Homo sapiens: one gene and its partners. The protein of the gene in region 2 purifies or fractionates together with the protein of the main gene of each other region. This does not show direct contact. Each region holds a gene or a part of one and is shown on either strand. Other genes may lie near its edges.

Region 1 (3,655 bases), on a different chromosome or scaffold from region 2:
TTCCTAGTATAATTTACAGAGTATTTTTAAATGTTTAGGTTTAAACAACCTCCCACGGGGTCTAAGAGAAAGGTGATGGAAGATAAAACAACAGAAACAATTACTGTTATAACCTACCTTGTTTAATTATGCCAACAATAATCTACATATAAAATGTGCTCACAACTCCTCCCCACCAACTCTGAAAATAAAGTGACCATGGAATATAGCAAATTTGTAGGAAGGTGATGGAAGATAAAACAACAGAAACAATTACTGTTATAGTCTATCTTGTTTAATTATGCCAACAATAATCTACATACAAAATATGCTTGCAACTCCTCCCCACCAATTATCTGAAAATAAAGCTGACTATGGAATTTAGCAAATTTATAAGAAACAAAAAAGCTCTTGCAAATTGTATAAGTGTAAAATAAAAGGAAACTTTTTCTCAAAGATACATTATCAATCACATTTTTTAAATGACAATTTATAATTCCAAAATTATACCTTTACTCTTAATACTATGCTAAATAACCAAAAGCTACAAAAGGAGTTGATTAAAAAATACCAACTATCTTCCTATAACAACAAAAATCCCAATAGCTACTATAAAAAAAAAAAAAAAAAAAAAAAAAAAAAAAAGCTGTGAGAGCAGTAAAGCTATCTAATGGTGCCACCTTGTGGAAAATACTGAAGAAAGCTGAGTTTTGAAACATCCTTCAATTTGCCTAAGGGCGAAGTAAAAAGGTCTTAGAAAATACTCAAATAAACCTAACACAAGAAAAATCCAATCCAGTTACTGGTGATATTACTTAATCATCTATTTTAATCTATGATGATAAAAATAAAAATCTTTTCAGAACTAGAGTTAAATAGTAAGCATTTAAGTTTTTATTGATTCCAGACTAGGAACTAAGTAACTGTCAAAAGTATTAAACCACAAACTAAAACTTAAGTTGTATATTATTTCATCACTTCAATTTCAAATTTGAATTTACTTATGAACTAAAATGCATTAAAAAGGGAATGTTATGCTACGAACTTTGTAGAACCTACCAACTTGGTGAGCCAAATGGAAGCAAAGTTGCAATTACTAAAAAAAAAAAGAAAGTTTCAATCTTACACTTTTATCTGATGCATGAATATCTATATTTCCATAAACTGTTCCCAGACAGATCACTTTGCCTCCTTTTGTTTGAACATGCAATTTTTGACCCTGAAAGACAAATTTAAAAATACATATAGTGAAAAAGAGAGTAAGTGTGACTTATACTAGTGAAACATTTTCAATATTTCTGTATTAATACTGACAAAGCAACAAAAGAACAATAAGGAATGAAATAGAAACTCACTGCTTCGAATAATGACATCAACTGGAAAAAAATGTCAACTGCTGTTAAAGGGATTAAATAAGCCACTTGGACTCTAAGGGAAAAACAAGAGATACTTGGGTATTCTGGTAGCTTCACTGATGAAGGACTTGGGAATCAAAAATCACTGTGACCAGCTAACTAAATATCCACAGTGATGAAGATGACAATAATAATCAGTTACTATTCATCATTAATAACAATAATAGTTATCACTTATTTGGCATTTTCTCTGCACCAGATACCATGTTAGCTACTTCACATGAACTATCATTTAATCCTCACGACAAACCAGAGAGATAAGTATTACATTTTTCCCATTTTACAGAGGAAGAATGCCAAGATTCAGAAAGGTAAATCACTTTATCAGGGTGACACAGAAAAAAACCCAAAATCTAAAGTAACAATTAGAATCAAGTTCTGTATGATTCCAAAGCCCACACTCTTAACGCTGGACCGGTCTGAAGGACAGAATACACATTAGGTTAACAGCCCACTTAAACCTTCTAGCACAACACATCCCAGAAACTAAGTAAAAATGCCTCCGAGCACAAAACAGCAGTCACAAGCCAGTTAGCCTATTCTGCAAGACAGAAAACAAAAGTATGTGTATGTGTGTGTGTGTGAGTGACTTGATTTTGGACTTGAGAACTATGGCAAACACTACTATTGGCTCATCAAAATCCATTTTTTTCCAAAGTAAAAGCAGTATAGCTTGACCCATGGCAAGACCACATTTTCCAGCTTCCTTTACCTCTTAGGTGTTGTTAAGTTGTTACCAACATAACGTAAGTGGAAATGCTATATGCCATTTCCAGGTTGGTGCTTTTAGAACAAGTGTGCCTTCTCTGTGCTCTTCTCATTCCACCAAGTGGGTCCAGAATATAACAAGGCTCTAAAAGATGGCAGAGCCGGAAGACGGAAGGAACCTAGAATCACTGAATGAAAAAGACCCACCCATACACCTGGACACAAGTAAGAAATAAACTCATATTATATATGAGCCATTAGATGTTTGGTCTATTGTTTTTTGTTTTTGTTTTTAGACAGAGTCTCGCTCTGTCGCCCAGGCTGAAGTGCAGTGGTGAGATCTCGGCTCACTGCAAGCTCCACCTCCTGGGTTCAAGCGATTCTCCTGCCTCAGCCTCCCACGTAGCTGGGACTACAAGCGTATGCCATCACGCCAGGCTAATTTTTTGTATTTTTAGTAGAGATGGGGTTTCACCGTGTTGGCCAGGATAGTCTCGATCTCTTGACCTCGTGATCCACCCGCCTCAGCCTTCCAAAGTGCTGGGATTACAGGCATGAGCCACTGCACCCGGCCTAGTCTGATTTTTTTTTAGAGTAGTTTATTTTCCCTTAATCATTATATATGTCTTTAGTTTTATTACATAAAGAGATATGGATCACTTGAGCCCAGATGTTTTCCCTTAATCATTATATACGTCTTTAGTTTTGTTACATAAAGAGATATGGATCACTTGAGCCCAGATGTTTGAGGATTCAGTGAGCTAGGATCGTGCTACTGCACTCCGGCGTGGGCAACACATCAAGACCCTGTCTCTTAGAGAAAAAAAATCTGTACTATAGCATGGTTAACTACGTTATGCCCAGAGACATGAGTCTGAAGTCAAATTATATTTAATATACTCCTTATCAAATATGTGATAAACCTTTGAAAAGACTATCCACAAAGCACTTTTTTTTATTTTTTAATTATTTTAATTATTTTTATGTACAGAAAACACAACAGTGTACATTTAACCCAGTTTAGTGGCAAGTTCTTTAGCCTTTGCCTTTTCGAGCTTGGCAATGTGAGCCACAGACTTGGGACCCAGGACATTGCCGTCCCAGTGACAGTGGGTCTCATCGTATCTGGCATTGTAATTGGTCCCGATAGCTTCCATCAGCTTAGCCAAAGCTCCTTTGTCTTCTGAGTTAACCTGTGTGAAGTCGACAGTGGTGTAGGTCTTCCTGTGAACTAGACATCCCAGTCTTGCCTTCCCCTTGATAATGCAGCAAGTGGCTCCCATTTTATGACACAGGACAGGCAGGAAAACAGTCAGCTCAATGGGATCCATGTCGTGTGCAGTCACCACCAGCGGAGCTTTCTTGTTATCCACAAAGGTGGTGATGGTGTTAACTCCTGCTCGAAAGACAGGTGGTCTCTTAATGGGGAGGTCCCCTTTGCCCACAACTCTGCCTGGGCCAACAGCCTCCGCTTCTTCTCTTGCTTTGTCTCTGGTCTGTATTTGTGGGCCAGCTTAAGCAGCTGAGTAGCTGTTTGGCCTTCCAGGGCCTGG
Region 2 (3,655 bases):
GCTTGTTGTCCTGTAGACAGAATGGTAGAGTGATTCAGAGCTAATTCTGGGTTAGACTGCACAGGTCTGAATCTATTTGCTCACTGTGTAGTGCTTTAGGAATACAATTTAACCTCTCCGTGCTTCAGTTTCTTTGGCCCTAAGATAGAGCTAATGATAGAAACCAACTTTACACAGTTGTGAAAATTAACTGACTACATGTCAAACAGTCTCTGGCACATAGTATGCATAATGTAAATTATGTGATGAGAAGCGAGAAAAAATAACTTGGGAAAACACTGAATATCATCAAAGTTGAATAGCTAACCAGTAGCTAAAGTCCAAGGTCCCCTCTCTTCCTTCTATGTGGCACTCTTGTTTTTGGTCCATCTACTCCCCTTGGGTGTTACCTCCTTGAGTGAAGTACCTGCTGGAGATGAGAAGAGTGGAACTGGATCTGCATGACAGCTTTGATTAGGATGGAGCTAAGACTTGGTTATCTCCCTGTTTTGTGTTTTGGATGGGTGACATTTTAAAACTGCCAACATTAAAATCTTGCTAATTTGCTTTGTACAGTTTAAAATGTTTGATATCTTTTATTGTTTAAAGTTTGAGATTGGTTTTGAATATATGGTTTTCCTACATCTTGAAGAAGGATATGTTTGTTTGCTCTGAAGTGGTCTATGTTCTGTTTTTCTATTTTATTATACTTTGCAAAAAACAGATGGCTGGCTTATGTTCACTGTTGTAGTGCACTACCTAGTATCACTCAGCCTTCCTGTTGTCAAGGTGTAGGAAGCAGTGTAAGGGATGTTGGGCCTTCAGACCCCCAATTGCCAACTCTGGTCCTAGTTCCAGATTGCATGGACATATTTGATAACATTCCTGCACTGAGTTATCACGGTCTGAATATTTATGTGATGCTCTACGAGTGGTACCAAAATGTTAGTGATGGAATTTTCACTAATGGCACCTTTTCCTGTTTTTAAATTCTAGAATCTTAATAAATCCAAAGTGTACATTTTGGTAATGATTTCATTTAGCTATTTACTCTAAGGACTGCCTTTTAAAGCATTAACTCTGCAATAACTTTAACTTATGAAAAGATTCAGCAGTAAGAATAAAAACTAGGCCAAAGCACAAAGTAATAATCCTTCACAAATAAGATGGAGTTATAAAAATATGGGCATCCTGTGTGTAGCTTTGAAAATAACCGAAGTACTTGGAACTAAAAAGTTAGGTGAACATAAAAATTGTCATAACCAAATCCTTGACAGCTTGATGGATGAAAAGCAGATGGGTTTACACTGTATGGGAGGAGGCATGGATTTTAGGAAGGACAGCATCAGAGAGGGATGGTTAGAAAGTGAACAAGACACATTGCTCTTTGGAAAACAAGGAAAGTCCCTTAATTAGAACAAGGCATGAAATTCTGCCACTAGGTGGCGATGCCCTATAACTTTACAACTTAGGGTACATCACACCAGCACTATGGAAGGTTTCTCCATTCTGCACCCCACCAGCTCCCTCCCCTCCTTCATTTTTCAGGATGACAACACCTTAGAGGTTTATGGCCATCAGGAGAGTTTACTACTAAGCTATATACTGATCTAATGAAACCTAATATATGTTGTGCAATGAATTATGAGTTATTTAGTTTCAGGATTTTATTAATTCAATCAGTTATGACCATATTTCCTTTTATATGATTGTTCACTCTTTATACATACCAGATGACTGTATAAAGAACATCTAATAAAGTCTATAGATGTAAAAAAAATTAAAAAAGAAAAATAAGATAAAGTTAAACTAGAATGGGAATAATGTAATGATTTCATAATATATTTTTTAAAAAAGGAATCCCATATGATTAGAAATTGAAAAAAAACAAACCATGGGTCAAAAAAATCATAAGAGAAATTTAAAAATAATAAATATTGAATGATAAAAATACTATATATAAAAGTCTGTGAAATATTTCTAAAGTGGTAGAAGAAAATTTATAGTTCTAAATTCTTATTTTACAGAAGAACATTGAAAATTAAGATGCTAAAGATTCAACTCAATAAATTAGAAAAAGAACAATAAAAGGAAAGTAGAAGAAAGTTCAATATAAAAATAAAAGTCAAAATGATTAAAATAGGAACCAAATATCCAATGACGAGGCTCGATGAAAGCAAAAGCAAGAAATACATTAGAAAATTGATTATTGTAATTTATCACATGGTCACACTGTGATATTAATGGTGAAGAAAGGATATGAAAGTGGCAGTACATATAGACGGGAAAAAACTTCATAATATTTGTAATAAAACCTCTCAGCAAACTAGGAACATTAAGAAAGTTCCTTAACTTGAGAAAGACAATCTACTAAAAAAGGTGAAACTTTTGTAGAATTTAGGAACAAAATAAGGAAATCCTCTACCAATGCTGTTGTTCCTCTTTGTACTGAAGATCCTAGCTAGCACAGTAATATAAGGTAAAGAAATATTGTAAAGAAACTGTCATTATTCAAAATATAATTAATTAACAGATAATCCAAGAAAATCTATACATTATTAGAATAAACAGAATTTAAGAAGGCTCCAGCATATAAAATAAATATACAAAAATATCAATCATGTTCCCATTTACTAGAAACAATTAGAAAATGTAGTTAAAAAGATGATATATTTCACAGTAATAATAGAAACTATAAGTACAAGTGAATCTAACAAAACATTTCTTCAGATTACACTATTATTATGAATATGTTTTCATATAATGTAGAATATAGTTTCAATTTTATCATTTGCTGCTATCTTTTTGAGTTTTGTTTGGCTACTTTTTAATGTGTCAAAACCAACTCTTTTTTTTCTCTTCCTCCTCTTAATAATTTTTGGTAAAGAGATTACCTTAAAAAGCACAACTTCCAGGTTCAGGACACCAGAAAAAGCAGGGTAGCATTGTAAATAATCTTCATTGTTTTCACCAGGTGAACTATTATATGAATGCACCAGGGAAATGGAGTCATACTGCAATCACTCAAAGACTGAAAAATAGTAAAAAATATTGTGGCATCATTTTTTCTGTTTTTGTCCATCTCTTTGTCCCTTGGTCTCCTCAAATCATTATCCTTCCCATACCTCTATTTCAATGATTTATTCCTATAAAACAGTTGTATACATAGTATTAGAAGGGATGTATTATATAGAAGTTTAGAGCATAAACTCTGGAATCAGGTGTTCTGGGTTCAAAGCTCAGCTCAGCTACTTCTTGCTGTGTAACTTGTGGCAAGTCATACAACTTCCCTTGGTCTATACAAACTTCTCTAGTAGAGTTGTGATTAAATAAATTATAACATGCAAAGCCCTTTAGAAAATTGGCACATAAATCTTCAGTAAATATTGGCTATTATTACAATTATCAGTGATTTGAATCACTTGGAGGGGAAATTATGTAGCTACTGCACTTATTGTTTTGTTCTTTTGTTTTCTTTTCTTTTTCCTTTTTATTTTTTAAAATTATTTATTTATTTATTTTTTACACCGAGTCCCGGTCTGTCGCCCAGGCTGGAGTGCAGTGGCATGATCTCGGCTCACTGCAATCTCTGCCTCCTGGATTCAAGCGATTCTCCTAATTCAGCGTCCCGAGTAGCTGGGATTATAGGCACACAACACCATGACCGGCTATTTTT
Region 3 (3,655 bases), on a different chromosome or scaffold from region 2:
GAGGCCCCACCACCTGCCCCAGCACACAGGCTCTGCCCCTGCCAGGCGACTAGCTAATCTAGAACCTAACCCTGCCTGAGAGTTGCCAGGACCCACCTGCAACCATGACCTATCCTTAGCACCGAGCCGGTGCCACCCTGGAAACCAGGCTTCTCACACCCTCTTCCTGGCCATATCAGGAGAGACAGAAACATTTGTTCCTGTATTCCCACCCCTAGTGGAAGGGTTTCCTCTACCACTCTGACATGCACGGCACCTACACTTCCACCATTAGTCACTCCTTTGGATTTAAGGCTTTGATCACTAAAGGCCCCTAGGAGATCAGGGCCTCACCTGGAAGGTGGGTGGGCGGGTGATTCCCTTTAGTTATCAGGTTAGTGACTCGGCACCTAGTGAGCAAGAGAGGGAAGGGTAGAGTAGGGATGATTCAGGGAAGTAGGGAGAGGCTGAATATACAGCTTTTTGCAAATCAGAGGCTCTCCAGGAAGCCCAGGATGTGATCCTGGAGAGAAGCAGCTGGGTAATGGGTACTGGAAACTTGGAGCTTCCCTCGCTCTGTGTCCTTGGGCCGGTGGTACAGCCTCTCTGGCCTCTGTGTCCTTCAGTTCAATGACTGTTTAGATCCTCTCCCTTCCACCTTGACATGTGGATGTGGGATTCCAAAGGGTGGAGAGGCTGCAGGCTAATTCCTAGGCATCACGTGGGCCTTCCCTCTACTCTCTTTTCCAGACACGTAGTTGGGCGAGGGTGTGAGGTAGGCCTGGCAGTGCAGGGGTGGGGGCACAACTGTGGGAGGACGCTCCTGCCAGATGTGCTGGCTCTCCAACCTGAGGTCGGCCTGCTTTCTGCTCTTTGGCCCGGGGCCTCTCTGACTGCCTGACTTAGGCATTCTCTGTGGGGGTGCCCACATTCCTGCCATTTTCAGAGCCTGACTCTCTGCCCACTTTCAAAAGGCTCCTTGAGGTTACATTCAAGGCCCACTGGGTCAGTGGGTCAGGTTGCAAGGCTGGCTTTGCCAGACCAGAGCATGGGACCCAGCCCCTTCATGGACAACAACACCTCCCACTCTGCCCTCCCCTGGAGCTGCACTCCTCTTTCACAAACAACAAGAGTATGGGGACAGCGGGCCAGACGGTGACAGCACCAGAGTGAATGAGAAGAGGAAACGTGCTCCACCAGGCAGGCCTGAGTTAGGAAATGCATGCCAGAGGCCCAGACTTGCCACAGTCGGTCAGCTGCTGGGGTGGTGATCGAGGGTAGGGTCCCTAAGGAGTCAGGCCCCATTCTTTCCAATGGGATCAGAGCCCTGTGAGCACCCGGCCCTGCGGCTGTGTCTGGTGGAGGTTATCTCCTACAACCCAGCCATCCTTGCAGCCCTCCTATCTGGCCGGAGCTGGGCCTTGCTGGCCCTGCCACCATGAGAAATGGTACTCAGGGGAACTATGGAGTCCGGCTGGGTACGGGGCAGCCTGAATGTGCTTTCTTGGTCCAGCACGAGTGAGGATTGGCTCGGAATCACATGGGGCGGGAGGTGGGTTGTCTTGTTCCTGGCCTGCCTCTGGGCTATGCCCTCCCCATATGTCCCTAGCCCCCTCCCCTACCTGAGCCCCTGGTTATTCTGGGAGCTTTTAGCTACCACTTAGCCACTAATGCGTCAGGCTGGGGAGTGAGGGGGGGACACGGTGCCAGACGGTGCTCCTTTTAGACAAGCAGGATGGGAAGCAGGGGGAGCCAGGAGGTGGGGGACGCCAGAGGATGGGGAGGCATTTTCCACTCCTGGCCCTGCTCGTAGGTTCAGGCAGCAGGGGAGAGTGGTGGGCAGTGGGTCAGTGTGTCCTTGGACAGGCTGCATCTTCCCTCCCCCATCACACGTGGGCCTCAGCTCACCTTCCCGATTCTTCTCATTAGGACTCTGCCAGGCTGCAGCGCATGGCCTCTGTCCTCCATACAGCCACCTTCCCCACCTTTGCTCAGGTTGCGTCCTCTGCCTGGCTTTCCCTCCCGGCCTGTTCAGGGCCCATCCAGCTTTTATCTACCTCACCTCTCCGTTTGGGTTCATAAAGCATCACAAAGAAAATGTTCAGGGATATGATACATACTCCCTTGGCCTGGCCTTTTTAGGGGTAGCCCCTGGCCTTGCTCAGCCCCTGCCTGGGCAGAGACTCGAGGCCTGGCCCTGATGGCTTGGTGCTGCCTTCACTTCCAGGCAGCCCTCCTGCCCCTTAGCCCCCAGCCCCCGCTCCTGCCAACCTGAACAAAGCTTCCTTTCATGTATTCATCGAGCTGCTGCTGCTCGACACTTCCCGGGCACAATCAGGCCTTTTGAGGGCCTCAGGCGGTGCGGGAGCCCAGGCTGGGGCTGGGGTGGAGAATGGGCCAAGGCCTTGTCCTGGGGCTGAGCTGGTGTCATTCCCTCTAGTCCATACGCATCACCAAGAACAGAGGTGGGAGGGCCAGGAACCTGGGGGTCATGGGAGGCCGTGGTCCTGGGCTCCTGTTCGTTTTCCTGCAAAATGGGACGAACAGTCCCTGCTTCCTCCACCCTAGCCATTGTGGCTAGGGTTTGAAGGGAACTGGGCTCAGGCTTGCAGATCCGCATGGGATTGTCCGGGCCCTAGTGCTGCAGCTCCTACCCAGGGGCCAGCAGCCCTCACCCTCCCTTCATGTCTTCAGCAGATACTTTGTGGGCAGCCCTGGGGTCCATGCTAAGACAGTTTTGCTGGAGAGCTGTGGAAGTTTTCTGTGGTGTGGCTGTCTGACCCCTCAGATGTATTCCCAGGGTAGGGCCAGACCTCCCCCTCAGACCTTGCTCTCCAGGACCCAGTCATGTCTCTGCCATCAGGCTCGACTCCCCAGGGCAGGACTGTTTTCCTCTTCTCTTCAACAGCCCTGCAATTCCTAGACCAGGGTGCCCCCACCCAGAGTCCTGTCTGGTGCCTCTTTTCCCTTGAGTAGTTGTACATTGGCCTTGCCGGCCCCCTCGGAGACCTGGGCCTGTGGCCTTGGTGCAGGAGTGGGGCTAAGGTGACTGATGAAGGTGGCTAGCACAGTCTGACGGCTAGAACTTTTCTGCTTTGACTCCCAGGGACTATGGATCTCAGGTCCTAGCCCAGCATCTCTAGATGCAGACACGCACCTTTTCCTGGCTGCCAGTCTGGCTATCGGTGGATGGGAGGGGAGCAGGAGGGGAGTTGGGGCGGCAGACTGTCTGGATCTCTGGCTGGGCCACAGAGGATGGTGGCTGCAGTTTGGGCTGCGGGTGGAAGGGGAGTTACGGGAGCTGAGTCAGGAAGACTGTGTCTGTGACCCCAGCACTCTAATTTTATCCCAGGAAGGGAGGGGGAGCAGGGCAGCACCCAAGACCTGCCAGCTCTCCCTCCCTCCCACCGAAGTGCCAGTACCTCTCAGCCCTTGCTCTGCACATCTCGGGCCTACAGGGAGGGAGGCTTGGGGGCCAGGGAGGGCTGATATCCCCGGAGCTGTTCAGTTGGGCTGTTTGTGATGTGCACCAGGAGAGCCACACCACCCAAGGACAGTGAGCTCAGCACTTCTCTCTGTAGCCTGCCATGCTGCTGAGAACTGATACTGCAGCCTGGGACAAGCTAATGTGTCCTGCCTGCTGGTGTGACCTTGGCATGTCTCCCAGGGTACCTCA

The links.
Region 1: the proteins of NBDY (region 2) and FAM185A fractionate together in Homo sapiens (co-fractionation; one large-scale study listed by BioGRID). This does not show direct contact.
Region 3: the proteins of NBDY (region 2) and SEMA7A fractionate together in Homo sapiens (co-fractionation; one large-scale study listed by BioGRID). This does not show direct contact.

The regions. Positions count from the first base shown.
Region 1 is NC_000007.14:102,755,397-102,759,051, reverse strand, and holds part of FAM185A (protein FAM185A), read right to left. Parts: exon of another isoform or gene 3,063-3,655; intron 1,199-3,062; coding exon 1,106-1,198; intron 1-1,105.
Region 2 is NC_000023.11:56,731,418-56,735,072, reverse strand, and holds part of NBDY (negative regulator of P-body association), read right to left. Parts: intron 3,011-3,655; 3' UTR 2,874-3,010; intron 1-2,873. UniProt on the Homo sapiens protein: Promotes dispersal of P-body components and is likely to play a role in the mRNA decapping process.
Region 3 is NC_000015.10:74,420,339-74,423,993, reverse strand, and holds part of SEMA7A (semaphorin-7A isoform 1 preproprotein), read left to right. Parts: intron 1-3,266; exon of another isoform or gene 3,267-3,655. UniProt on the Homo sapiens protein: Plays an important role in integrin-mediated signaling and functions both in regulating cell migration and immune responses.